7 linked regions of the Homo sapiens genome follow. The protein of the gene in region 6 purifies or fractionates together with the protein of the main gene of each other region. This does not show direct contact. Each region holds a gene or a part of one and is shown on either strand. Other genes may lie near its edges.

The links.
Region 1: the proteins of FOXN1 (region 6) and SATB1 purify together in Homo sapiens (affinity purification with mass spectrometry; one large-scale study listed by BioGRID and IntAct). This does not show direct contact.
Region 2: the proteins of FOXN1 (region 6) and NFIX purify together in Homo sapiens (affinity purification with mass spectrometry; one large-scale study listed by BioGRID and IntAct). This does not show direct contact.
Region 3: the proteins of FOXN1 (region 6) and TXNDC5 purify together in Homo sapiens (affinity purification with mass spectrometry; one large-scale study listed by BioGRID and IntAct). This does not show direct contact.
Region 4: the proteins of FOXN1 (region 6) and SIM2 purify together in Homo sapiens (affinity purification with mass spectrometry; one large-scale study listed by BioGRID and IntAct). This does not show direct contact.
Region 5: the proteins of FOXN1 (region 6) and CUX1 purify together in Homo sapiens (affinity purification with mass spectrometry, with the first as the bait; one large-scale study listed by BioGRID). This does not show direct contact.
Region 7: the proteins of FOXN1 (region 6) and SATB2 purify together in Homo sapiens (affinity purification with mass spectrometry; one large-scale study listed by BioGRID and IntAct). This does not show direct contact.

What each region holds. Positions count from the first base shown.
Region 1 is NC_000003.12:18,345,340-18,348,839, reverse strand, and holds the end of SATB1 (DNA-binding protein SATB1), read left to right. Parts: 3' UTR 1-3,463; downstream 3,464-3,500. UniProt on the Homo sapiens protein: Crucial silencing factor contributing to the initiation of X inactivation mediated by Xist RNA that occurs during embryogenesis and in lymphoma.
Region 2 is NC_000019.10:13,078,975-13,082,474, reverse strand, and holds part of NFIX (nuclear factor 1 X-type), read right to left. Parts: intron 796-3,500; coding exon 620-795; intron 1-619.
Region 3 is NC_000006.12:7,881,017-7,883,902, reverse strand, and holds the end of TXNDC5 (thioredoxin domain-containing protein 5 isoform 1 precursor), read left to right. Parts: intron 1-636; coding exon 637-759; 3' UTR 760-2,386; downstream 2,387-2,886. UniProt on the Homo sapiens protein: Protein disulfide isomerase of the endoplasmic reticulum lumen involved in the formation of disulfide bonds in proteins. Can reduce insulin disulfide bonds.
Region 4 is NC_000021.9:36,737,115-36,740,614, forward strand, and holds part of SIM2 (single-minded homolog 2 long isoform), read left to right. Parts: intron 1-3,500. UniProt on the Homo sapiens protein: Transcription factor that may be a master gene of CNS development in cooperation with Arnt. It may have pleiotropic effects in the tissues expressed during development.
Region 5 is NC_000007.14:102,202,126-102,205,625, forward strand, and holds part of CUX1 (Homeobox protein cut-like 1), read left to right. Parts: coding exon 1-79; intron 80-2,265; coding exon 2,266-2,431; intron 2,432-2,988; coding exon 2,989-3,045; intron 3,046-3,500. UniProt on the Homo sapiens protein: May be involved in intra-Golgi retrograde transport.
Region 6 is NC_000017.11:28,504,935-28,509,147, forward strand, and holds the start of FOXN1 (forkhead box protein N1), read left to right. Parts: upstream 1-1,413; 5' UTR 1,414-1,509; intron 1,510-4,213. UniProt on the Homo sapiens protein: Transcriptional regulator which regulates the development, differentiation, and function of thymic epithelial cells (TECs) both in the prenatal and postnatal thymus.
Region 7 is NC_000002.12:199,346,440-199,349,939, reverse strand, and holds part of SATB2 (DNA-binding protein SATB2), read left to right. Parts: intron 1-766; coding exon 767-1,239; intron 1,240-3,500. UniProt on the Homo sapiens protein: Binds to DNA, at nuclear matrix- or scaffold-associated regions. Thought to recognize the sugar-phosphate structure of double-stranded DNA.

The sequences.
Region 1 (3,500 bases), on a different chromosome or scaffold from region 6:
ACAAGCATTATACCTTCTGTGATTATGATTTCCTCTCCTATAATTATTTCTGTAGCACTCCACACTGATCTTTGGAAACTTGCCCCTTATTTAAAAAAAAAAAAGAAAAAAAAGAGTTTGTTACTCTATTGTATGTTACAAAAGAACTATAGACTGTGGAATGCAGTTTAAAGATGACATATGCCAACAAATGCCTTGTATTATATGGCACTGCCGTAATTCAAATTTGTTTTTATTTTGGAAATAAAAGTTCACTGTACTTTTTTTTCATTCTCATTGTTACATGATTTTTTAAAAAAAGGAAAAGAAAATGTGAAACACAATTTAGTCCTCATTATTTATTTGTAGATCCTGCAGCATCATGTTGTAATTAATTTTTTGGAAGTTTCCGTTAAATGTAATATTGCTTCTCTTGTTACCATACTGATTCTTTTCTATTTATAAATGTATTTTGATGGGCAGTAAAACAAAGTGTCTTAAAAGTTTTAAATAGAGAAAATGTGCTTTACACAGTTGCCTATAAAAAGTGCTCTATGTTATCCAAGCAATTCATACTATAAGCTTCACTCTTATTGTTGTATGCAATTTTTACTATCATGCAAATAAGCTTAGGTAAATAAAACTAATAGATCACCTTAGAAAATTATGCAATTAATGTGAAAATAATTGATGTTTGCAATGTGTCTTCCTTTGGTTTACAATCAATTTTAAAGCTACATCTGTATAAAATTTCTGTATAAAGGTGTATTTCTTTTTTATGAGTTTATGGCTATGAAAACAGCTATTTTGTTACAGCTGGCTGTTTTTATAAGTGTATCACAATTTTCTTTATGCAGAAATGTTCTGACTAGGAGTGGTTATTGACTGTAACTACACAATTAAAATTGTTTGTATCGTATGACATGGTAGGGTTTGTCTGCTTATGTGAAGTAACTAAAGGAGTCAAAGGATGGCCCTCTCATTTAGGTGCATGTTAATAACTTGTTATTTCACTGATTTTAAAAAGAGCAATTGACAAGTTACTTGAAACACTGTAAATTTAAATCACAAACACATGCTCATTTTTAAATAGGTATGAAATTTCACAATGAAAATAACCTGTTTGGTTAACATTTTGCTTAATAAGTAGAGATAGGATGGTCAAAAGACTCTCCGACAAAAACAAATCCAGTCTCTAGCAGTTATGTTGTTAGAATGGATTCATCTGTGCTTATTTCACAATACTTCATTTATAGCAATGCTTTTCCTTAAGCTAATGTATAAATATTTCTAAAGGCCATTAATAGTAACAAAATAAGTAGGGGAAAAAATGGACCTTCTGTATAAAAACCCCTTAGCTTTTTTTTTTCACAAGTTATAAGTGGAATAAGTTAATAACTGAGCTCGTAAGTGTATCTCATAACTATAAGAGCTACATGAAGAAAATAGGAATAACACACCTGGTATTTAAACACAATCTTCAAAATTCTTGCAACATTAAACATAGTAAAATGCCAGAATATAAAATGAGGTGTGCTAATGGTCACAGGATTGAGGCCAGCATTACAGTTTGGGGTGATTTTTCTTTTATTTGCTCCCTCACTTTGTTTCCTAGATGCTAGTAGGGGTATCTGGGTTGCTTGAGATACCATTTTGCAATTGCCCCTTCTCTTTCTGCCTACCATCTTCTCAGGCCCTGATGAGCTTATTGGTAGGCAACTGGGCTGCTTTAGTGTTGAACTTGTACTTTAGAAACTGAAGTGGAATCATTGAAAACTTTCAATAAAGCTTTAAAGTTCCATTTACTTTTGAAGCACAGCTAAGCTCCTCTGAAGGCAGCTGGTTTGTTGCAAACTTAAAATTGTACTGAAAAGTTGCCACTTTTTATTTAGTAAGAAAACAAACATTCTGGCTCACTAGAGTTCAGAAAAGTAATAATTTGAGCCAAAGGAATTTGAATTAAGAAAATAGAAACTAGGTTTCATGTATTTAAAAAATAGGAAATAAAATAGAAACTCAAATGCCATGAAGTTATCTTCCTCTTCCTTATATCCCCTAAGTTTGGGTTGCAAATAACTTTCCAATTCCTAATAACCTAAATTATTTTGAAATAGTGTTTTCAGTGAAATGATGAATGTTTGAATGTTTGTTTGGTAATCAACATAACAATGCTAACAAAATTCCCACTTAGATTTTTTAACTTTTAAAAGTCAGCGTGGTTTTGATAATTTGATATTTTAAATGCCCACACATACACACACACACACACACACACACACACAAGCACATGTTAATAAACTGATAGGATGGAGTGAGCAAAATTGTTTTCAGGGAAGATGGCACATTTTAGAAAAGACTTGCCCAGATGATCTTCCATATTGCTCCCCCAATGTCATTTATCGCTCATGCCAATCCTCCTCTTGTTACCTGTGGCTATGGTAAAATTCCTTTAACAAGCTTCATTGTGTCCAAGTATTTCAGAGACTTTTAAAAGCTGGGCATGACATAGCGTTTTGTGCTGTTAAGACCTTAGCAGAGTCAGGTAGTTTACGGGTAATATTCAACCTTGTGCATCTGAATCTGTCATGGATTCCCTTCACTCAGCACTTTGCCACTAATTTGTATTACACTCTGTGGCCATATAATACTTGCACATTATGCAAAAAAAAATGTTGATAGTATCTCCTTGCCACACAATATGCAGAGTTGACAACCTTTGAAAACCAAGGTAACTAATATGTATGTCCTAGTTGTGTGGCGCTTGGTAACAAAGTCTGTACATATTATGTATAAAATGTGTATTGGTTAGCATTTAGTACTAAGAAATTCTGAGTTTAAAATAAGTGATTTTTTTCAAAGTAGCGATATCTATATCTGTGTTTATCTAAAAATACTGGCTTGAATAGAAAACATTCTCAGATGATTCAAGATTGAGTAAAAATGAGAATCCCATACATTCCATTATTAAATTCTGCCCTATTCCCAATTGTTAGCATCTGGCTGATATTAAGGTCTTTGATTGTCACAATATTCTCAATAAATGAGACATTCTGAACTGCCTGGTGATATTTTCAAAAAGAGCAATTAAAATGTGTATTCCCTCTAATACAGCTGATAGAACTGTTGTGTTAAAGCAAGTTGGAAATTTGCATGATAGTGTGGAAACCAATGGAGGTCCAAAATATTAATCATATCTAAAATATCAGAAAATATCAATACTAGTCTTCTTTATGCATATTTTTGACTTTTTAAGAGGGCTTATGAATTCAATGTTTCTTCTGAGGCAATCCTTTTAATGTAAATACTAAATACTTGCATGTCTTTTGACAAAGGCTAAACTACAATCTATTAATATGCACATTTTTGATAAAATATAAAGTACCCTAATTAAAGAAATTGTGGTAGAAGGTGTATGTCCTGAATACTATACCTGTTTAACAATACCAAATGTTAAATAAAAATAGTTTGAAATTAATGTTTAAAAGATGAGCCACATTTTTAAGACTTTCTTACATTACCCT
Region 2 (3,500 bases), on a different chromosome or scaffold from region 6:
GTGGATCGGGGCTTTCCCTTGACACAGTGCTCCTCACTAGGGATGGTCTTCCCCTCCTGGGCACACTGAAATCTGGAGACTTTTTTTTATTATCAAGACTGGGGAGGAGGAGGTGCTCCTGGCATCTAGCAGGTGGAGGCCAGGGATATTGCTCAACATCCTACAGAGCACTGGATGGTCTCACACAATAGTGAATAAACAGCCCCAAATGTCAACAGTGCTGATACTGGGGAAACCCTGGTCTAGAATCTAGCAAATCCTTGCAGCCCCGAGGTTTAAGAGGAGCGCTGGGAGGTCAGGGCCCAGATCCGGGTTGGATCATCATGAGTTCACTCCTGCTGAGGGGGCAAGGACCATGGGAAAGGCAAGGAGCCTGACTGAGCAAGGGGGCCCAGATGCTGCCCCCACCTCTCCGGACCATGATAGACAAGCCCTGGCATAATACACAGACCCCCGTCCCCAGACCCAGAAAATCGAGGCGTTTGGTACTACCAGCTCCCTGCTGCTCCAGCCCCAGGTGGGCTCCTGGCTTTTGGGCCCTCTCCCTGTGAGCCCTGAGACAGACAGATAGATGTGGAGATGAGGCTGTAGCCGGGCTCCTGGGGCCCTCTGGACTCACCTGTCCGGTGGCCTGGCCCGAGCCATCCGAGCACACAAACTGCACAAACTCCTTCAGTGAGTCCTGCCCGTGGTGGTGGTGGTAGCGGATGGTCGGGTGCGTGAAATACGGGCTCGACTGCTGGATGATGGACGTGGAGGGGAAGTGCAGGGCTGATGCTGTGGCCCGGGGGCTCCCTGCATGCACGTGGGCAGGGAAAAAAGGGCGTCAGGGCCAAGGAGGCAGCCAGTGGGAGGGACAGGAGAGGAGGGGAGCTGCCGGTCAGAGGGTCCTGAGGATCCTGAGCAGGTAAGGCAGCCGCCACAGGCACAAAAGTTAAGGCGGCACAAAAAAGTCAGTCATCAGGATCCATGATGTTTTAATGCAATACAAAAATAATAATAATAATAATAATCAAATAGGCAAACTAGGGTCCAAAGGCCAGCCATTTGTTTTTGTAAATAAAGTTTGATCACAACCAGCGCTGGGAGATTAGGATGAGGCAGATGAGGCAGGGTAGGATCTTGTCTTTATTTTATTTGGCTTTTTAAAAAAGTGTTATTATTATTATTTGAGACAGGGTCTCGCTCTGTCATCCAGACTGGAGTGCAGTGGCACAAACACGGATCACGGCAAGCAATCCTCCTGGGCTCATGCAATCCTCCCACCTCAGCCCCCCAAGTAACCAGCACTACAGGTGCACGCCACCAGGCCTGGTAGATTTTTGCTTTTTTTTTTTTCTAGAGATGAGATTTTGCCATATTGTCCTGGTTAATCTCAAACTCCTGGGCTCAAGTGATCTGCCTGCCTTGGCCTCCCAAAGTGCTGGGATTACAGGCATGAGCCACTGTGCCCAGCCTAAAGAATTTTTTTTTTTGAGACTGAGTCTCGCTCTCTCACCCAGGCTGGAGTGCAGTGGTGCGATCTCAGCTCACTGCAAGCTCTGCCTCCCGGGTTCACGCCATTCTCCTGCCTCAGCCTCCCGAGTAGCTGGGACTACAGGCGCCCACCACCACGCCCGGCTAATTTTTTGTATTTTTAGTAGAGACAGGGTTTCACCGTGTTAGCCAGAATGGTCTCGATCTCCTGACCTTGTGATCCGCCCACCTCAGCCTCCCAAAGTGCTGGGATTACAGGCGTGAGACACCGCGCCCAGCCAGTATCTGTTAAATAGAGACAGGATCTCGCCCTGTCATCCAGGCTGTAGTGCAGTGGCATGATCACAGCTCGCTGCAGCCTCGAACTCCTGGCCTCAAGCAGTCTTCCTGCCTTGGCCTCCCAAAGTACAGGGATTACAAGCATGAGCCACTGTGCCCAGCCTCAACATTTTAAACCATTTTAAACAAAGACATGGCTGAGTGCTGTGGCTCATACCTGTAATCCCAGTGCTTTGGGAGGCCAAGGTGGGAGGATCACTTGATCCAGGAGTTGGAGGTCAGCCTGGGAAACATAACAAGACCCCGTCTCTACAACAAACATTTAAAAATTAGCCAGGGTGGCACACAGGAGGGATCACTTGAGTCTGGGAGTTCAAGGCTTCAGTGAGCTATAATCGTGCCACTGCATTCAGCCTGAGTAATAGAGCAGGAAACTGTCTTTGAAAAAAGAAAAAGAAAAACAAACAAAAAAACTGGTGTTTGCTTACCATACCCTTTTTTTTGCAATAGTTTGGATTTTAAAACATATTCCATTAAAATATTATTTATCTTGATGACTGAGTTTTTGATACTTGCTGACACTCTGCACCTAAGGTGAGTGCCTCACTAGCCCTGCCTTAATTCAGGCCCTGGGTGGGAGACTGGGTGGGGGACAAGAGGAGGCAGAGGGTTCCCTGGGGCTCTGGATGAAGACAAAGCCAGCATCTGCTCAGGATGGCCGTCTGACATATGCACACACATCTCCTGAGTGCGAGCTGGTGTGCACCCAGCCACCGCCACCTAGGCGGTGTTCTCATGTGCTCAGCCTCATCACTCACACACGTGTCCTCACATACGCGTCCTTGCACACGCAATTCCCAACCCAGAGCAGGCCCCAGCTCTTCCTCCTCCCGTCTGTTTCCAATCAGCTCGCTCTTGCTCTCGGTTTCATTAGGGGGCTGAGGAAACTTGGCTTCTCTCTGGAGTTCATAAAAGCTGAGGTGGAGCCGGAGGAGCCAGGCCTGCGCCCTCCTGCTGCCTGTGTAGAGGGCCTGGGCTCCCCACCCCCACCTCGCGGCCACCACACCCTGCCCCAGCACCGGCTGCCTCTGGGCTCCCAGCCAGGAGGCCCCAAGGAGGAAGCCAGGAGGTAAACCTCCTCATTTTCTGTGTCCTACATACGAGCCCAGGAGATGGCAGGCGGACATAGGGCCATATCCAGAAAAAGTCCAGGCCTCTTGCTGCCAGGTGGGTGCCCAGAGAGGGAAGAAGAAAGTGAAGGAGTGACAGGGCTGAGGTCTCAGCTCCCACAGCCTCCTGCCTGATCCTATCTCCTCAGGGCGATCTAGGTGTTCTCATCCTGAGCACCTTCTCAACTGGGACACTGAAGTCAGAGAGCAGCCCCACGGCAGTGGGCAGTTCCTTTTCCTGGGGAGCAGCCCAGGTACCACCTGTCCCCTAGACCCAGCCCTTCCTTTCTAGAAAGCGGCAGGGAGGCCCAGACAAGGTAGCTACTTGCCGCAGGAGCCTGGGCTCCTTAGGAGTACTCTTCTCCATCCAGGCCCCACATCAACCTGGGCTCATGCTGGCAAAAATCCAGAGCCTGGGCTCAGCCAGGAGCTGGGAGAGAGGAGCCGGCAGGAAGGCAGAGCAGAAGGCTGTGCCTTCCCGCTCACAGCTGGCAGGACAAAAGGAGAACTGGGCCAGAGTTGGGGAGGACTCGGGACAGGCTTGTGTTGTATGTAGCACCCATGCACGTGAGGAGT
Region 3 (2,886 bases), on a different chromosome or scaffold from region 6:
GGTCCTGTGCTTGGGTTAACTACTGCCTTCATTCCAAGCTGTTAGCACAGTCTGATGGCCTGGAAGATTTGTCATTTTTTTTCTTCTTTGTTATTCAGACACTTTTGGAGCCCTTTAGATGGAGAATAGACGTAACCCAGACATAGTTTCCTTATCATTAAAAGATACCAGTTGTTTTTTGTGCCCTAAAATTCTTAGAAACGAGTTGCCACTGAAACATGTATCCTCAAGAGGATCTTGCTCTCATGGTCTGGTCTGCAGACCACCAGGGCATCGCCAGGGAGGTCATTGGAAATGCAGACTCCCAGGCCTGCTCAATCCAAATCTGCACCTTCAGCAGATCCGCAGGTGATCGTGTGCACAGTAAAGACTGAAAGCGTCTGCTTTAGGGTAAAGTCGTTCCTTTGAGGCTGATCTTTAATGATGTCATTTTGAATTCAGAAGTGAACACACAGCCCCACGGCTGTGCTTTCTAAACAGTAGTCTGCTCCTGTTTTAATGGAATATACACCTTTAAAAATTAGCCACAGAATTTTTCCAGCCACAACGGTAGGAGTGTATCTGGTTTTATTTAGGAAGCAATTTGCATGTGATCTGGACCGCTGGTTTGCAAACTTTTTTCTTTTTTGTTTTAAGGTACGAGGCTACCCCACGTTATTGCTTTTCCGAGGAGGGAAGAAAGTCAGTGAGCACAGTGGAGGCAGAGACCTTGACTCGTTACACCGCTTTGTCCTGAGCCAAGCGAAAGACGAACTTTAGGAACACAGTTGGAGGTCACCTCTCCTGCCCAGCTCCCGCACCCTGCGTTTAGGAGTTCAGTCCCACAGAGGCCACTGGGTTCCCAGTGGTGGCTGTTCAGAAAGCAGAACATACTAAGCGTGAGGTATCTTCTTTGTGTGTGTGTTTTCCAAGCCAACACACTCTACAGATTCTTTATTAAGTTAAGTTTCTCTAAGTAAATGTGTAACTCATGGTCACTGTGTAAACATTTTCAGTGGCGATATATCCCCTTTGACCTTCTCTTGATGAAATTTACATGGTTTCCTTTGAGACTAAAATAGCGTTGAGGGAAATGAAATTGCTGGACTATTTGTGGCTCCTGAGTTGAGTGATTTTGGTGAAAGAAAGCACATCCAAAGCATAGTTTACCTGCCCACGAGTTCTGGAAAGGTGGCCTTGTGGCAGTATTGACGTTCCTCTGATCTTAAGGTCACAGTTGACTCAATACTGTGTTGGTCCGTAGCATGGAGCAGATTGAAATGCAAAAACCCACACCTCTGGAAGATACCTTCACGGCCGCTGCTGGAGCTTCTGTTGCTGTGAATACTTCTCTCAGTGTGAGAGGTTAGCCGTGATGAAAGCAGCGTTACTTCTGACCGTGCCTGAGTAAGAGAATGCTGATGCCATAACTTTATGTGTCGATACTTGTCAAATCAGTTACTGTTCAGGGGATCCTTCTGTTTCTCACGGGGTGAAACATGTCTTTAGTTCCTCATGTTAACACGAAGCCAGAGCCCACATGAACTGTTGGATGTCTTCCTTAGAAAGGGTAGGCATGGAAAATTCCACGAGGCTCATTCTCAGTATCTCATTAACTCATTGAAAGATTCCAGTTGTATTTGTCACCTGGGGTGACAAGACCAGACAGGCTTTCCCAGGCCTGGGTATCCAGGGAGGCTCTGCAGCCCTGCTGAAGGGCCCTAACTAGAGTTCTAGAGTTTCTGATTCTGTTTCTCAGTAGTCCTTTTAGAGGCTTGCTATACTTGGTCTGCTTCAAGGAGGTCGACCTTCTAATGTATGAAGAATGGGATGCATTTGATCTCAAGACCAAAGACAGATGTCAGTGGGCTGCTCTGGCCCTGGTGTGCACGGCTGTGGCAGCTGTTGATGCCAGTGTCCTCTAACTCATGCTGTCCTTGTGATTAAACACCTCTATCTCCCTTGGGAATAAGCACATACAGGCTTAAGCTCTAAGATAGATAGGTGTTTGTCCTTTTACCATCGAGCTACTTCCCATAATAACCACTTTGCATCCAACACTCTTCACCCACCTCCCATACGCAAGGGGATGTGGATACTTGGCCCAAAGTAACTGGTGGTAGGAATCTTAGAAACAAGACCACTTATACTGTCTGTCTGAGGCAGAAGATAACAGCAGCATCTCGACCAGCCTCTGCCTTAAAGGAAATCTTTATTAATCACGTATGGTTCACAGATAATTCTTTTTTTAAAAAAACCCAACCTCCTAGAGAAGCACAACTGTCAAGAGTCTTGTACACACAACTTCAGCTTTGCATCACGAGTCTTGTATTCCAAGAAAATCAAAGTGGTACAATTTGTTTGTTTACACTATGATACTTTCTAAATAAACTCTTTTTTTTTAAAAGTCTGGTCTTTCCTTCAATGTTACAGCAAAACAGATATAAAATAGACAATAAATTATAGTTTATATTTACAAAAAAAGCTGTAAGTGCAAACAGTTGTAGATTATAAATGTATTATTTAATCAGTTTAGTATGAAATTGCCTTCCCAGTACATGATTGTGAAAAAGACATTTAGAAAATATTCTAAAATTTAATCTGAGCCTCACTTTCTACAAGGGAAATCATGATTTCCGTTCATAAACAGCATGCTCATCCCCCTAACACCATTCTTATAAGCTGGGCACCCTCATTTTATTTTCTTCGTTGGTTCTAACCCTGTGGCGTGGTATGCTGTATAGTAAAAAGGCAGAGAACCACTTTACTGAAAAGGTACTAGAGCCGGCAGTCCAGAAGTTAATGTGCTGGTCAAAGAACCGTTCTGGTAAAGAAGAGGTGAGCATTGCCTTCACGTGTTACACGGTTACACACCCCTTGTAGCCTCACCTCAGTGTAATCAGTCTA
Region 4 (3,500 bases), on a different chromosome or scaffold from region 6:
GATGGGGTCTTGCTATGTTGCCCAGGCTGGGCTTAAGCTCCTGTGTTCAAGTGATCCTCCCATCTTGACCTCCCAAAGTGTTGGGATTACAGGCATGAGCCACCATACCCGGCCCCAGAACATTCTGTAAAGAAAAGTGAACACGGGATCATCATAAATGGAACCACTGTGACCCTCCCACCCCACGCCTCACCCACCACCTGAGGTGGCTGATTAAAGGCACCATGCTCCAGCCTGGCCTCAGGAAAGCCGAGCTCTGCCTCCCCGCTTTCTTTGTTTCATGTTTGGGAGACTTTTTCTTGTATGTAGGGGGAGCTGGCAAAGGCTTGTGATCTGTTGACCCAGACCCTCAGGGGGGGCTGAGCACAGCCTGGTCCATAGGTGGAGAAGGGATCAGTGTCAGTAAACCTGACAGTTTGTGTCATGGGACACTGGGCTGTCCATGGTTTGGAAGAACCGTGATGTCCACATGGCTATTCTTCCAAGGTTGTTGAGAATTTCACCCGGCTCTCTAGGTAGGCTCCTGCCCAGAATGGGCCAAGCCCAGACCACAAAGAGAACACAGGCCATGTGCAGCTATTAAAACATTTCAATGTCCACTTTGGGAGGCCAAGGCGGGCGGGTCACTTGGGGTCAGGAGTTTGAGACCAGCCTGGCCAACATGGTGAAACCCCGTCTCTACTAAACAATACAAAACTTAGCCGGGCGTGGTGGCATTCGCCTGTAATCCCAGCTATTCAGGAGTCTGAGGCAGGGAGAATCTCTTGAACCCAGGAGACGGAGGTTGCAGTGAGCCGAGATTGTACCACTGCACTCCAGCCTGGGCAAAAGAGCAAGACCCTGTCTCAAAAAAAAAAAAAAAAAAAAAGCAAAAAAAAAGCAAAAAGAAAAAAGCATGGGGCCATATTCCTAAGGGCTTGAATAGATTTTGAGGTTGAAGAGCTTAGCGAGCACTAGTCCTCTTGAAATCCGTGGATGGATCCTCAGTCTGAGCCTGCTGCATCTCTTGGTTATTTTGGACCATAAACAAATTGGCCAAGTCTCCCTTAAAAGGTGAGCCCACCTCACCCCCATACGTATTATTCAATGTATTACTTTGAAAGTAATAGCAGCCAGATGCGGTGGCTCACGCCTGTAATCCCAGAACTTTGGGAGGCCAAGGCAGGCAGATCATGAGGTCAGGAGTTAGAGACCAGCCTGGCCAACATAGTGAAACCCCGTCTCTACTAAACTACAAAAAATTAGCCGGGTGTGGTCGTGGGTGCCTGTAATCCCAGCTACTCGGGAGGCTGAGGCAGGAGAATCACTTGAACCTGGGAGGCGGAGGTTGCAGTGAGCTGAGCTCATGCCACTGCACTCCAGCCTGGGTGGCAAAGCCAAGACTCCGTCTCCAAAAAAAAAGTAATGGCAAAAATCGCAAGTACTTCTATACCAACCTAATAGCTATAGAGAACTTTCCAGAGGCCGCTGCTCCCTCCTCCCACAGCTGCCACTTTGAGGACACCTGGGCTGGACTCCAGCTGTGCCCTCAAGCTCTGTTGGCCCCGGTTTCCTGGTGCTGCCCACCTCCCACCTCCCACTGTTGTAGTGGGGGTAGAATGAGGCAATCCTGTGAAATGAGCTGGAAGTAGACACCATGTATCTTTTCATTAGAGAAGCAAACCCCCAAAGGAGAAGCATTGTCAGGCTTCTCTCTTTGCCATGGCCTTTGCCTATACCCTTGAGCAGTGATCTGAGTCGGCTGAGATGCAGATGTTAAGCCTGGGCAGAAAAGCGCTGCTCTCTGCATGGTCCGGGAGAGACCCCTCTCCAGCCGGTGGCATGCTCGTTACGCAACACTGCCTCATGTCCCCAGGTTCATCCTGACGGGGTGGTGGGGCTTGATGGAGACTGGATTCCTGCCTCCCAACCCCCACAATCTTCTCTCCCATGTAAAAAACAAAACCATTTCATTCTGGTTAAACCTCCTCCTCGTTGGAAATTTAGAAAGTCAAGGAAAGCTGAAAAGAAGAAAGTGAAAATTATCTGTCATTTTCAGTCAGATAAAAGTTAATATGTATTGAGCCCTTCAGCTGTGTCTGCCAGTGTTCTAAATCCTCAAATAGATCATCTAATCTTTCAACAACCATATGAAGTAAGGACTGATTATCCTTTTTTTATAAATGAGGAAATTGAGTCACAGGGGGGTTGGTAGCTAGTCTAGGATCACACAGTTTGTTGGAGGGGGTAGTGTATGCACGTGCCCACTTTTTCATAATTAGGGTTATACTTTACACATTTCTGAATCTTGTCTTTTCTTCTGTTAACATTGTATCACACATTTCCCATAATATAACAATTTCTTATTAATCATCATTTTAATGGCTGCATAGTTTGCCATAATGTATTTACTCTTTTCCCTACCGTTGAAGAGTTAAGTCTCTCCCCACCCCTTTTCCCTGAATTTTCAGCAATATTGCAATGAAACCCTTTGTAGGTAAGTCTGTGTTTGCACACACAGACCTGCTCACAATTTCCATAGGATCAATTCCTAGAAGTGAGATCAGTGTGTCAGAGGGTGTGAGCTATCAGACTGCTTTCCACCAACTCATCCTTCCATCACACATGAAAATGCCTCTCACTGGGCCAGGCGCCGTGGCTCACACCTGCAATGGCTGCATAGTTTGCCATAATGGCAAACTATGGGAGGGCAAGGTAGGCGGACCACTTGAGGTCAGGAGTTTGAGACCAGCCTGGCCAACCTGGCAAAACTGGGGAGGCTGAGGCAGGAGAATTGCTTGAACCCAGGAGGCAGGTTTCAGTGAGATCATGCCACTGCACTCCAGCCTGAGCAACACAGAGAGACTCTGTCTCAAAAAAAAAAAAAGAGAAAGAAGAGAAGAAAGAAAGAAAGAGAGAAAGAAAGAAAGAAAGAAAGAAAGAAAGAAAGAAAGAAAGAAAGAAAGAGAAAATGCCACTCACCATAGATTAGCCGGTGTCACCTGTTGGCCTTTCATTTTTTTTTTTTTTTAGATAAAATTCACCTTTCTCACCATTTTCAGTGTTTTTTAGTTATATTCACAGTGTTGAACAACTATCACCTTTAATTCCAGAACGTTTTCATCATCCCAAAAGGAGCCTGTCACCCCAGTCCCCCTCGTGCTTCAGCCCCTGGCACCCACTCATTTGTTTTTGGACTCTGTGGATGTGCCTATTCTGGAAGTTTCATGTAAAGGGAATCATACAATGTTTGTTTCTATTTTAATGTCTGTTGATCTGATGGATGGATCTGCCTTTGAGTTAAACAAGGGAGTTGGGCATTTGTTCATCATTTTGCCCATTATATTTATTCTTTGATCTTTGCCTATATTGCTTTTAGGGTCTTTGTGTTTTTATCAATCTGTACGAACCCCCTATATATTAAGGTGAATAACTCCGTGCAGCATTTTCTTTTGCACCAAAATATTTTGATGTGGATGAGAAAGAGCCATCTGCAAGGTGAAAAGGAACCGTAAAGGGCC
Region 5 (3,500 bases), on a different chromosome or scaffold from region 6:
GGACACCATCGAGCTCACCCGGCAGGTTAAGGAAAAGCTGGCCAAGAACGGCATCTGCCAGAGAATCTTCGGGGAGAAGGTAAGGGATCTGCTCTGGGGGCTTTGGTTCTCCCATCTCTTCTCCTTGCTGAGGACCAAGTATCTATCCCGCAGCCTGTGACCCTCACCCATTTCAATTCACCCAAGAGCAGAGCGTAAGGCATCCTCTGCTCCCAGACTTCCAAGGTGCGGCTGGTGAACATTGCAGCCCCGATCCCATTTGCCGAGCCCCGACTGCAGCCAGGTTCTAGGCTCAGCCTTTCACCTGCATGCTGCCCTTTCGACCCCTCACTTGGCGCTGGGAAGTGGATGGTAAAATCCCCAATTGACAGGGAAGGACACCAAGGCTTGGGGACGTTAACTACTTGCCCCAAGCTGACCGGCAGCCGAGTCCACATCCAGCTTTTGCTGCCAAGGGGAGCTGAGAGGCACCCCTGCAGGCTTCCTTGGCCAAAAAAAATCCCATCTGATCACACAGAGGGACCACCAGTACGCAGAGAGCCAAAAGGGACTTACTAGAAAAAGCTGCAGAGAGCATTATTGTTCCTTTCTGTGTAACTCTTGGATATTGTTCAGTCAGAGAGGTCAAGCAACCTGCCCGGGGACACACAGCTTGGGGATGGCCCAAGCAGGGTGGCCCGTGTTTCCCTATCATCCTTCCCTGGCTCAGGAAAGTGTAATCGTGCATGGACGAGCTTCTAGGCCTTTCTGTTCTTGGCACTTTCCTGGTCACTGAGATTCAGGAGAATGAGGGTTAACCGTGCCTGCCAAATCTAAAATAAACATCATGTCCTAGTATCATTTTATTTATTTATTTTTTGAGATGGCGTCTCACTCTGTCGCCCATGCTAGAGTGCAGTGACGCTATCTCGGCTCACTGCAACCTCTGCCTCCTGGGTTCAAGCGATTCTCCTGCTTCAGCCTCCTGAGTAGCTGGGATTACGAGTGCCCACCACCACACCCAGCTAATTTTTCTATTTTTAGTCGAGTCAGGGTTTCACCATGTTGGCCAGGCTGGTCTCCTGACCTCAAGTGATCTGCCTGCCTTGGCCTCCCAACCCCCTACCATTTTAGATTAAATAACGGAGTGCTGAATAGAAGGAGAAGCACCCCTCTCCCCTAAAAGGCACCTTCCTGAGGGAGCACGTGGCTGGATCAGCAGGGGACAAATCCCACCCCCTCCCCTGCCAAGCCAGGGTCCCTGCATGGCGCCGTCCCCGCACTCCCCACCCCGCCTTCCACTCAGTGTTTGCCGTATGCTGTGCTGTGAATCCCGGTGGTGTCCGATGGCGAACTTTGCCCTGATTTTGCAAAAGGTGAAGGGGGGCGACTAGAAATGAGGATGAGTATTTCAAGTCCCTTGAGATTTCTAGTTCAGTGTTGTAAAAATACCATTTGAGAACATTGAAATAGACATTCGTGCTCATGCCTTAAATTTAGCAGAGACTTAATAACATTGAACTTGTTTGGCCCGTGAGTGCAGTTTTATTCTGGAACTTGAGAACTTTTCAAAAGAGTGATCGGATGCAGCCCCTAAATATCCCAGGGCGGCATCTGTGTCCTGTGGGGGGTGTTTGTGCCTATACATATGTATGGCCATATGGGAGCGTCAGAAAACTCGGGTGTGTACACGCAACTCGGCAATCATCTGCGGCGGAATGTCACTCCCAGGCCGGCTCCCCAGGTCCCACCAGCTCACCTCTGGGCCCCCACCTTTGATCAGGATGTGGTCAGAACAAGCAGACCTTTCTAAATGCTGGCCTGGCTCAGCGTTTGCAGAGGACACCAGCTTCGCCAGTCCCACCGGCACCCACTGCCCCACCTCTGGAGGGATCTTGTCCCTGGAACCTTAGCCTTTCCCGGTGCCACCAAGTGAAGAGCAAGGTGCTTGTACACACCTCCTCCGCGGGGTGTCAGGGTGACAGCCCTGCCATCTTGGCAGGATCAAGACCCTGGGATGAGACCCTCTTCCCTCCCTGGGAGCTGAGAGCTGTGGCTGTAACCATGGCTCACCCGAAAGTCCCCCTGTGCCGGGGTCTCAGCCACCGTTGATCTTTAAATGCATATTCCCTGCCCACAAGCTGTCACCGCCACCAGGCCGTGGTTCTGTGCTCAGAAGTCAGCCCTAGACGCGCCCTCTGCGTGGTGGGTGTGCATTGCAGCAGCATCTGTGGTGTCATGCTAATAGCCAGGCACTGATGGCCTGTGTGTTCGGTGCCACTCCAGGTGCTGGGCCTGTCCCAGGGCAGCGTCAGCGACATGCTGTCCCGACCGAAGCCATGGAGCAAGCTGACGCAGAAAGGCCGAGAACCCTTCATCCGGATGCAGCTCTGGCTGAACGGCGAGCTAGGCCAGGGTGTTCTACCCGTCCAGGGCCAGCAGCAAGGGCCAGGTAATGGGGGTCCTGCCACAGGAGAGGGGCTGCCCCCCCATAGCAAGGACCTGGTCACAGCAGCCCCACCTGGGCTATGCAGAGAGGGAGGAGGGAACTCCGCCCCAGGAGGTGGCCAACCACACTCCCCACCGTGGGCTGGTGCTGGGGGACAGAACCGTCCCCTTCCTCCACAACCTGTTGCCGTGGGACTGACTTCAGTGTTTAGGAGAGATCATGCCTGTCTAATTTTATAAGCAGCAGAAAATGAGTTACCAATTTAAAAAATGCTGTTTATACATAAATACAGGTAAAAGTCAAGTAGCTGAATCAGGGAGTCAGGAAAGAAAGTCAGCCAAAGGTACAAAAGTGGAAGATGTCACAGGCGAAACCTTTCACCTGCTCCCGGCCCGGGGGCCTGGCCTTGCAACAGCAGCGCCTCCCCGGCCCGTGGGTCCCCATGCCCGCCCCTCCCCAGGAGGAATGGGAAGCCTCCCCGGGCCTTGCCACATTCAGTTAGGAAGCTTTAAGCCCTGGGCCGCGTTCCTTCCTTTAATTATAACCTTTTTCTACTTTAGTCCTCCACTCCGTGACATCGCTCCAGGACCCGCTGCAGCAGGGCTGTGTGAGCTCAGGTAAGCAGCCAGTTTCTGTTGCTTTTGCATGAAATGTCTCACTGCCTTTTCTGTTGTCCCGTGCTGTGGTCTGTCCCGGCGAGACTCCGAGGGACCGCACATTCTGGATTTGGGGAGCTGAAATATGGCATCCTATCTGCAAACGGGGTCCCTCTCTGTGTCAGTTTCTAATGGAGAGCGAGCTGACAGTGCATGGAGGGACTCTGCCAAGATTTGCACGCCCACTGTCATCCTTTGTCGGCCCAGAGCCTTGTGTTCAGGGCTGGGGTCTAAGTCGGAGACAGATTCCCCACTCAGGGGGCTTACCGTCTGATAGGAAGGGATAAAGCACGGGCACACGTCCCTCTCCTGGTGGGGTCATGTCGGGGGACTTCTTATCTAACCGGAAGACATCCAGGCAGCCTCTGAGCAAGAAAATGGGGAGCTTTGAGCTTGAGCAGTGGGAAAGGTAGGGT
Region 6 (4,213 bases):
GCATGCTCCACACTTGTGCCAGATGACCACCACTGTGCCCCGGCCAGGGTTGATATTACCTCTCTCCTTGGAATGAGATAGTCACTGGGGAAGAGCTGACTTGTCCATACCCTCAGGCCAGAAGCCAAATCCCAGAACTTGCTGGGCAGCAGTGCTGGTACTAGGTCCTTAGAGCCTTTAGCTCCAGGAAGAGACACAAGTGGGCTTAGAGGCCAGTGCAAGGGTCAGGGAGATGGAGGAGGGAAAGAATGACCAGGGACAGGAGACAAGGGGATGGAGGGCAAAGAAGATGAAAAGGAAGCAGAGAGAAGGAGGTGAGGACAGGGTCTGGGGGAACAGCAGAGAAAGCTGTCAGGGAGCAGGGACAGGCTCCAGGCCTGAGTCCAGCTGGGACCAGGGAAGCCAATTCCTAGGGCTTCACCCTCAACATGAACTCTAAGGGGCCAGAGACCAGGGCAACAGCCACTCAGGTTTCTGTTTCTATCCTCCAAATAATGAAGAGTAGCCTGGGATGAAGACACAGAACCAGGGAGCCCCCATCTCCACCCCCACAGACACCCACATGCTCACACAGGACTAGGTTGCTGACCCACAGCAGAGACGTGTGCACAGACATGAGCATGTCAACACACGGACGACACACGGGCCTGGGTCCGGGGACACAGAGACACAGACACAGGGGAAGACATGCAGACACACGCCCACCCAGGAGACAGATGTACAGACCCAGGGAGAGATGCAGACAGACTCGCATGTATCTGCCCCTGAGGGAGAGGGAGATGGGAGTCACCAGCACATGCTCCAGTGGGTGCACACGCCCCCACCCACAAGGAGACACCCTCGAGGTGCTGCGGGAGCTGTGGAGAGACAGACAGATGGCCGGCCCCATGGACAGACAGTTCCCAGCAAATCTGTGCTAATGCTTGGCCCTTGAAGGGCCCAACCTGTCCATGCCGTGCCTCAGAGAACCCTGGGCTGCCACCCAGCGCTGTTCCCCAGAACCTCATGAGTGGGCTCCATGAGCATACATGTGGCGGCCAGGCTCTCCTGACACACGTGCATGCTCCAACAGGCCTGTGCCCCACCTGTGGGTGGGGGGGCGACATCTCCCTTCTGGAGTGCAGGCGGGGGCCACGGGACAACCCCCTCCTCTACAAGCCACAGGCTGTGCGCACTGGCAGGGACAGGGGAGGGGGCCTGGGCTAGCTCAGGAGGAGGGAGGGGTTGGGGGGCCAGGGTGCGGCTGGGGCGGGCACGGGAGCCGGTACCTGTCAAACAAGAGCCAAGGAGCAAACTAGCTTCTTAGTCACCTTTCTCTTCTCCCCGTTTTGGCGCAGCCCCTCCGGGCAAGGGGAAGCTGATATCATAATTATTGGCTCACCTGGCAGCTGCCTCCCCTCACCTGATGTCAGCACAGACACAGGACGGCCGAGCTGACGGACTGACAGACGGACAGAGCTCCTGGCCCCCCAGACCCGGGCCCCCACGCCGACCTGCTTCACTGAGCAGGTAAGAGGAGCCCCGGCCCAAGTCAGCCGTGGAGGCCAGCAGGGCCGGGCTGGGGCACGGGGAGGGCGTTCGCCTTTTTAACGGGGCTCAGGAGTGACGGGGAGCACCCAGGTTCTCACTGCAGCTCAAGGGAGACTCAGAATTCGGGTGAGTGCCTGGAGGCCAAGGGGCACCCCTTCCCCCACCTCCCCCTCCAGTTCCTTTTCTAGGTTGTCCAACTTTAATCCCTCTTGCTGTGGTGTGGGTCTCATTCTGGTGTGTGCTGGATTTTGTGTGTGTCTCTGTGTGTTGGAGATGCGCTCACCCACCCTGTGCTGGGAGGAAATGAGGACTCAAAAGTGTTAGATCTGGAAAACTAGAGCTGAAAGGCAGGGGGCCAAGTTCTCCATGTAGTGGTTTTCCAGGTGAAGAAGGGAGAGCCCAGCTCTGGGAGCTGGGGAGCACCAAGGGTGTGTGCAGATCAAGGAATTGCTCAACATCTCCACGCAGCCTGGGCTGGGGTCTAGATGCCTGGGCCCATGCAGAGGCCTGGGTTGCAGAAAGGAGATGGTGCACCTTGTGGCGAAGCAGACAGGTGGCAAACAGGTGCTGTGGCCATGAGTTGATGCTGGGCTTAGGGCAGAGTCGCCTCCTATCCCCAGCTCCATTTCTCTCCCGCAAGACCCCTAAGGCAGAGTCCTGGTGAGCAGAGCTGGGCCAGGCAGGGAGCCCTGAGGCCTTTGGGGCCTAGAGTTGGGGGCGTGGGAAGTGAAGGCCCTTAGGGAAGTGGCCGAAGCAGCAGGAAGCCCCTGCCAGCTCCCCCGACTCCTCCCCACCCACTACCCGCTCAGATAAGGTTCTGGCATTCCCCGTGGAGTCCCCCAGGCCCTCCCTAAATATCCAAAGAAGCCCGTTGGATGAAGAGTAGACTCTAGCAAGTGGGCGTGTTTGCCTCTTCTCTCGGCACCTACAGGCATGGGGGATATGTCTGGATGTGCTTTGTGGCAATGCACAACTGGTCAGTGGGAAGGGACCCGGGCGGAGGGGCTCATCTTGGGAAGTCATCCTATCCATCCCCTGCCCCTATGCCAGTCATTGCCCACATCGGGCAGGGCTGCCCCTCCTAGTTTTCCTAATCCCTGAAGGAGAAAATCTGGTCAGTTTCCTCACAATCATGAAGTCCTTCCTGGAGCCTCTCTGAAGTCTTTACTGCTGCAGGGTCCAGCTCTGCTTGCCCGGTAGCCTTCTTCCTCCCGCACTGAGGAACACTAGTTCCTCGGATCCGAGGGCGGCGTTGCACTGCAGTCCTGTCCCCACCGGGCTTGGCTCAGAACCTTTTACCATCTTGCTCATTCCCTGACCACAAGACACAGGCAGTACAAGGGCACCCCGAGTGGATGGGGGAAGGGGCAGGGCCTCCTATCCTGGTCCCTTTCTCTTGTGGCTCTGTGAGGGGTCCAGGGTGAGCCAGGCAGGGACAGAGCCAGGCTGAGTCCTGGAGAGGGGCAGACGGGGTGAGGGCTGCCCCAGGTTGGGGATCCTCAAAGGCGAAGGAGCCACAGGGAGAGGCGCATGTCCTCCCGGCTCCCCGCCCAGCCCCGCCCCGCCCGCGCTGCCTGTGCGAGCTCAGCTCCCGGCTCCAGGGCCTGCCGAGGCACGCTGCACCCCCAGGCCCGGCGCCTCACTCACTCCCAGAGCCAGAAACCTGTTCTCCCGGGAATGCCAGGGAGTTCTCAGAGGACTTTATTTCCCAGGGGCTCAGGGAGCCCCAGAATCTTCTGGACCAGTGGGTCCTGGGAAACTAGAGAAAAATTAGGGGGCTTAGGACCCCTCCCTGCTCCCCAGCTTTGTCTCATCCACGCACTGACGCCACATTGCCTCCAACCAACAGCCGTCTTCACCGTGAGAAGGCTTCATCGCGAGAAGGCTTAGGAAAGTTAAAGACAAGGGGGAAAGCCCACTGGTGACATGCACCTTCTGTCATGTGCCATCCGTTGCCTCAGGGAAAGCCTTCCTTTCCCCCCATCCCCCAGACAGTCCCATCTGGCCTCTAAGAAAGCAACATATCGCCTCTTTCCTTGGACTCTTCACCTTCTCTAGCTAGGAAGTCCTTCCTGATGTCTAACCTCTCCCTTTCTGGCTTGAGTTGACACCTGGTCTTCATGGACCAGCAGAACCCCCATTGCCTGCACAGGGCCCAGGCACATAGGCAGAGACTGTTCTAAGTCACAATGAAATGCCCTGGTTGCTTGGGCGCTGGCAGGGACAGAAAGGCCCCACTCTCGCTGCGCCTCTTATTCTCTCTGACTCCACATTCTGACGAAGTTGCGGTCCACTTCTGCCTGCCTCCCCATCTGCCCATAACAAAAGGATGGAGGGGACCGAGGTCCTGCAGGTATGCCCTCCCCTCTGTCCTTCCAAATCACAGCCTGCCATCCCTGCTGTGGCTGGCAGAGGGGAGTTCAGGAAACCAGGATTGGCTTCTGCAGCAGGAGTGACTGACAGAGTTCAGAGAAAGTTCTCAGCATTTTAGGTTGAGTTTGACTGGACTATGTGACCACAGGAGGTGGTTTCCTGAGTGGAGAGGCAACCATTGATCTGGGGTGGGTGGGGTTGGGCTGGCAACATGCCCAGGAGCTGGGGAAGGATGAGAGGACCTCCAGGAGCTGGGGAAAGACAAGATGACCTCTGGGAGAGGGCCTCCCAGAAGCACGAACCACATGGT
Region 7 (3,500 bases), on a different chromosome or scaffold from region 6:
ACTTGCCTTATGCTTGTATATATATGATACTTACTTTTCCCTTTCAAAGTTATTCTTTTAATCTTTATTAAAGCACAATATAATGTAATAAAGCAGATAACCTGAGGAGAACTTCATTTAATGGCAAGTTGAGGTGATGTTATTAATTTTGTGATTTTTTTTCTTATCTGAGTGCATAGCACAATGTTTAAAATATCAATTTCTTAAAGAAACATTTCTATAAAAAAGATAGCAAGTGAGTCAATAAATGGATATACTATGTGGCAGACATTTTTAAATGAACATTTCCATAGCTGTATAATAATATTTATGTGAGCTTTTTACTAGAAGGTAGCACTTAATTTGGCAGGAGATGTTATCCTTGTCATTTCCTGATAACCATTAACTACATACTACAGAAGATAGGAACAGCTGGTGCTTTTATAACAAAGGTTGATTGGGGAGATGATAGAGCTTGGGGGATCTAAGAGGATTTAGAATGGTCAGTGGTTTCTGTCTTGGCTATTTAAAGAAATGCTTACTTTTAAGAATTTTAACTAATTGAAGTGGCAAATAATTTTACTTTCTTTCATATGTTCCATGAAAAAAATCTATTGTAACATTTAGCAGAAAAGAATATCACTTTTATGCTGGAGCTTCCATCGTTGTATGAAAAAATGTTTATATTATTAACATGCCAAAAGTATGATAATTCAGTTCTACATATATTAGCAATAAATTGTACCAATGAAAATAATGATTAATTATCACTTTTATCTCTTAACAGTGGAAAGAGTGGAACGAGAAAACCTTTCAGACTATTGTGTTCTGGGCCAGCGTCCAATGCATTTACCAAATATGAACCAGCTGGCATCCCTGGGGAAAACCAACGAACAGTCTCCTCACAGCCAAATTCACCACAGTACTCCAATCCGAAACCAAGTGCCCGCATTACAGCCCATCATGAGCCCTGGTCTTCTTTCTCCCCAGCTTAGTCCACAACTTGTAAGGCAACAAATAGCCATGGCCCATCTGATAAACCAACAGATTGCCGTTAGCCGGCTCCTGGCTCACCAGCATCCTCAAGCCATCAACCAGCAGTTCCTGAACCATCCACCCATCCCCAGAGCAGTTAAGCCAGAGCCAACCAACTCTTCCGTGGAAGTCTCTCCAGATATCTACCAGCAAGTCAGAGATGAGCTGAAGAGGGCCAGTGTGTCCCAAGCTGTCTTTGCAAGAGTGGCATTCAACCGCACACAGGTACAATTAGCATTAAACACTGTAATTAACAGTAATACTGGGGACAGAATTGAGATAGGTTATAATTATTTTTATCTCTTTAAAAAGCTTTATGGATCTCAGGACATAGAATTAGATTAATTAATAATCCTTAGTTAATGAAACGCTATTACCATTGATCCATGCATGACCATGATTAATTAACTAATTGATTAATTTTGATGAGGTAATGGACATCTTTGAACCCAACATGCAACTCAGGACCCCAAATGTTACTAATGACTTGGGTATGTACTCTCTCATCCTCTCCATTTACTGTTTGCAGATGTAACCCTGATCTTGAATTTTGTGATTATCAGTCTCTTGCCATTTTTTAAAACAAATTATAAAACTATGCATGCCCAGACAATCTATTTTTTTCCCTTGGTTTTGAACGTTATAAAAGAAATAAAATTATGTTTTATAATTTTATAAGTAAAGTTTTATTTAAAAATTTATAAAAATCCTTCAAAACATAAAAGTTAGATTTAAGATATTGATAAAATGATAATGGATAGTTTACTTTTATTTTTAATGTTTGAGAGAATTATATGCCAATTATAACACTAAATGTTGAAAATGTAAACAGTTAATTCACACGTCTTATTTTTATTGAGGGTGCTTATATGTAAGACATTCTTTTCTGCTAGTAGTTCTTAAACTGGAGTGTGCATCAGAATCACCTGGAGGGCTGTGAAACACAGACTGCTGGGCCTCATCCCATAGTTTCTGATTGAGTAAGTCTGAGGTTGGACTCAGAAATGGACATTTCTAACAAGATCCCAGGTGATTATGATGGTACTGATCCGGGGCCGCATGTTGAGAAAAACTTACCTAGCCCTTATATGAGTAAGAACAAAGCAGATGTGCATAATCTCGGGGAGCTAACGATCTAGTGGTGAAAACCAGGTAACCAGATAATTAGAGTAAAATGTGAAGTGTTATGAGTAATGTTGGAGAGTGTAAGCAATAGTTGTGGTGGAGGTTCATGGTGAGCTGGAGGTGAGGAATACTTCCAGGAGAATGAATATGGTAAGCCTTCAAGAAAACAGTAGATTAAAATTTCAGCACCCTCGTAAATGCAAGGCAGGAAGCTAAGCTCTATGTGGGTGCAAAGAGGAAAAAGATAATGGGCAAGCACATATGTAAACAACACTCTAGAGTATTAGGTTGTCAATGGGTTAGACCTTGAAGGATTAATAAAGTACAGCAGGCAAAGATGATGAAGAAGAAGATTATTATTTTAAGGTAAAGACATTCATAGGAAAGATGTTGAGTTAAAAAATGCAGGAATAATTTGAAGACATAAAACAACTGATTTCTGAGAAAAACCCTGTGAACGTACAGAATGTAGGAATGCTTTCATTTATCTGATACCTGTTCAGAGACACATGATAACACACGCTGTAGATGGACCTTACAAATGAAAGAAAGCATGCTGGATTGAAACCTCAATAATTTGGAAAATACAGGAATGTTTCCAAATTTAATGATTACTTCAGAAGTTAAGGGGCTGGGCACAGTGGCTCATGTCTGTAGTCCTAGCACTTTGGGAGGCCAAGGTGGGCGGATCACTTGAGGTCAGGAGTTCAAGACCAGCCTGGGCAAGATGGTAAAACACCATCTCTACTAAAACAGAACAAAACAAAAAAATTAGCTGGGCGTGGTGATGCGTGCCTGTAGTCTCAGCTACTCAGGAGGCTGAGGCAGAAGAATCCCTTGAACCCAGGAGGCGGAGGCTGCAGTGAGCCGAGATCATGCCACTGCACTCCAGCCTGAGTGAGAGTGAAACTCCATCTCAAAAAAAAAAAAAAAAAAAAAAAAGTTAAGTGAAAACTCTCACTGGGGAGAAATCTGATAAATGTTGGTAAATTGGATTGCCTGATGCAAGTTAACACTCAAAAAATGCACCTAAGTGAAATGTTATACCAGTTATAAATATTTTATGTTTATCAGTGGTTCATTGTTAAAGAGGGTCTGTTTACTTTTGGTTTCCACGTCTCTTGCAAGAAAACATTGAGGTAAGAATTTTGTAGATACTCTTTAAGCAATACTGCGTGAGTTAAATAAATAGCGTTTTTGTTAAGTCAGTTAATACATTTTTTCTCTCTTTATTCGAAAGTGTGTTGGATCTCTGGTTGAATTGAAATGTATTTCTATTATGTAGGCGATTTAAATTTTTATTAGTTTTGAAATTGTCGTATGATTAATGAGTCATTGAAAAATGAGTTTTTGTGCTGGGT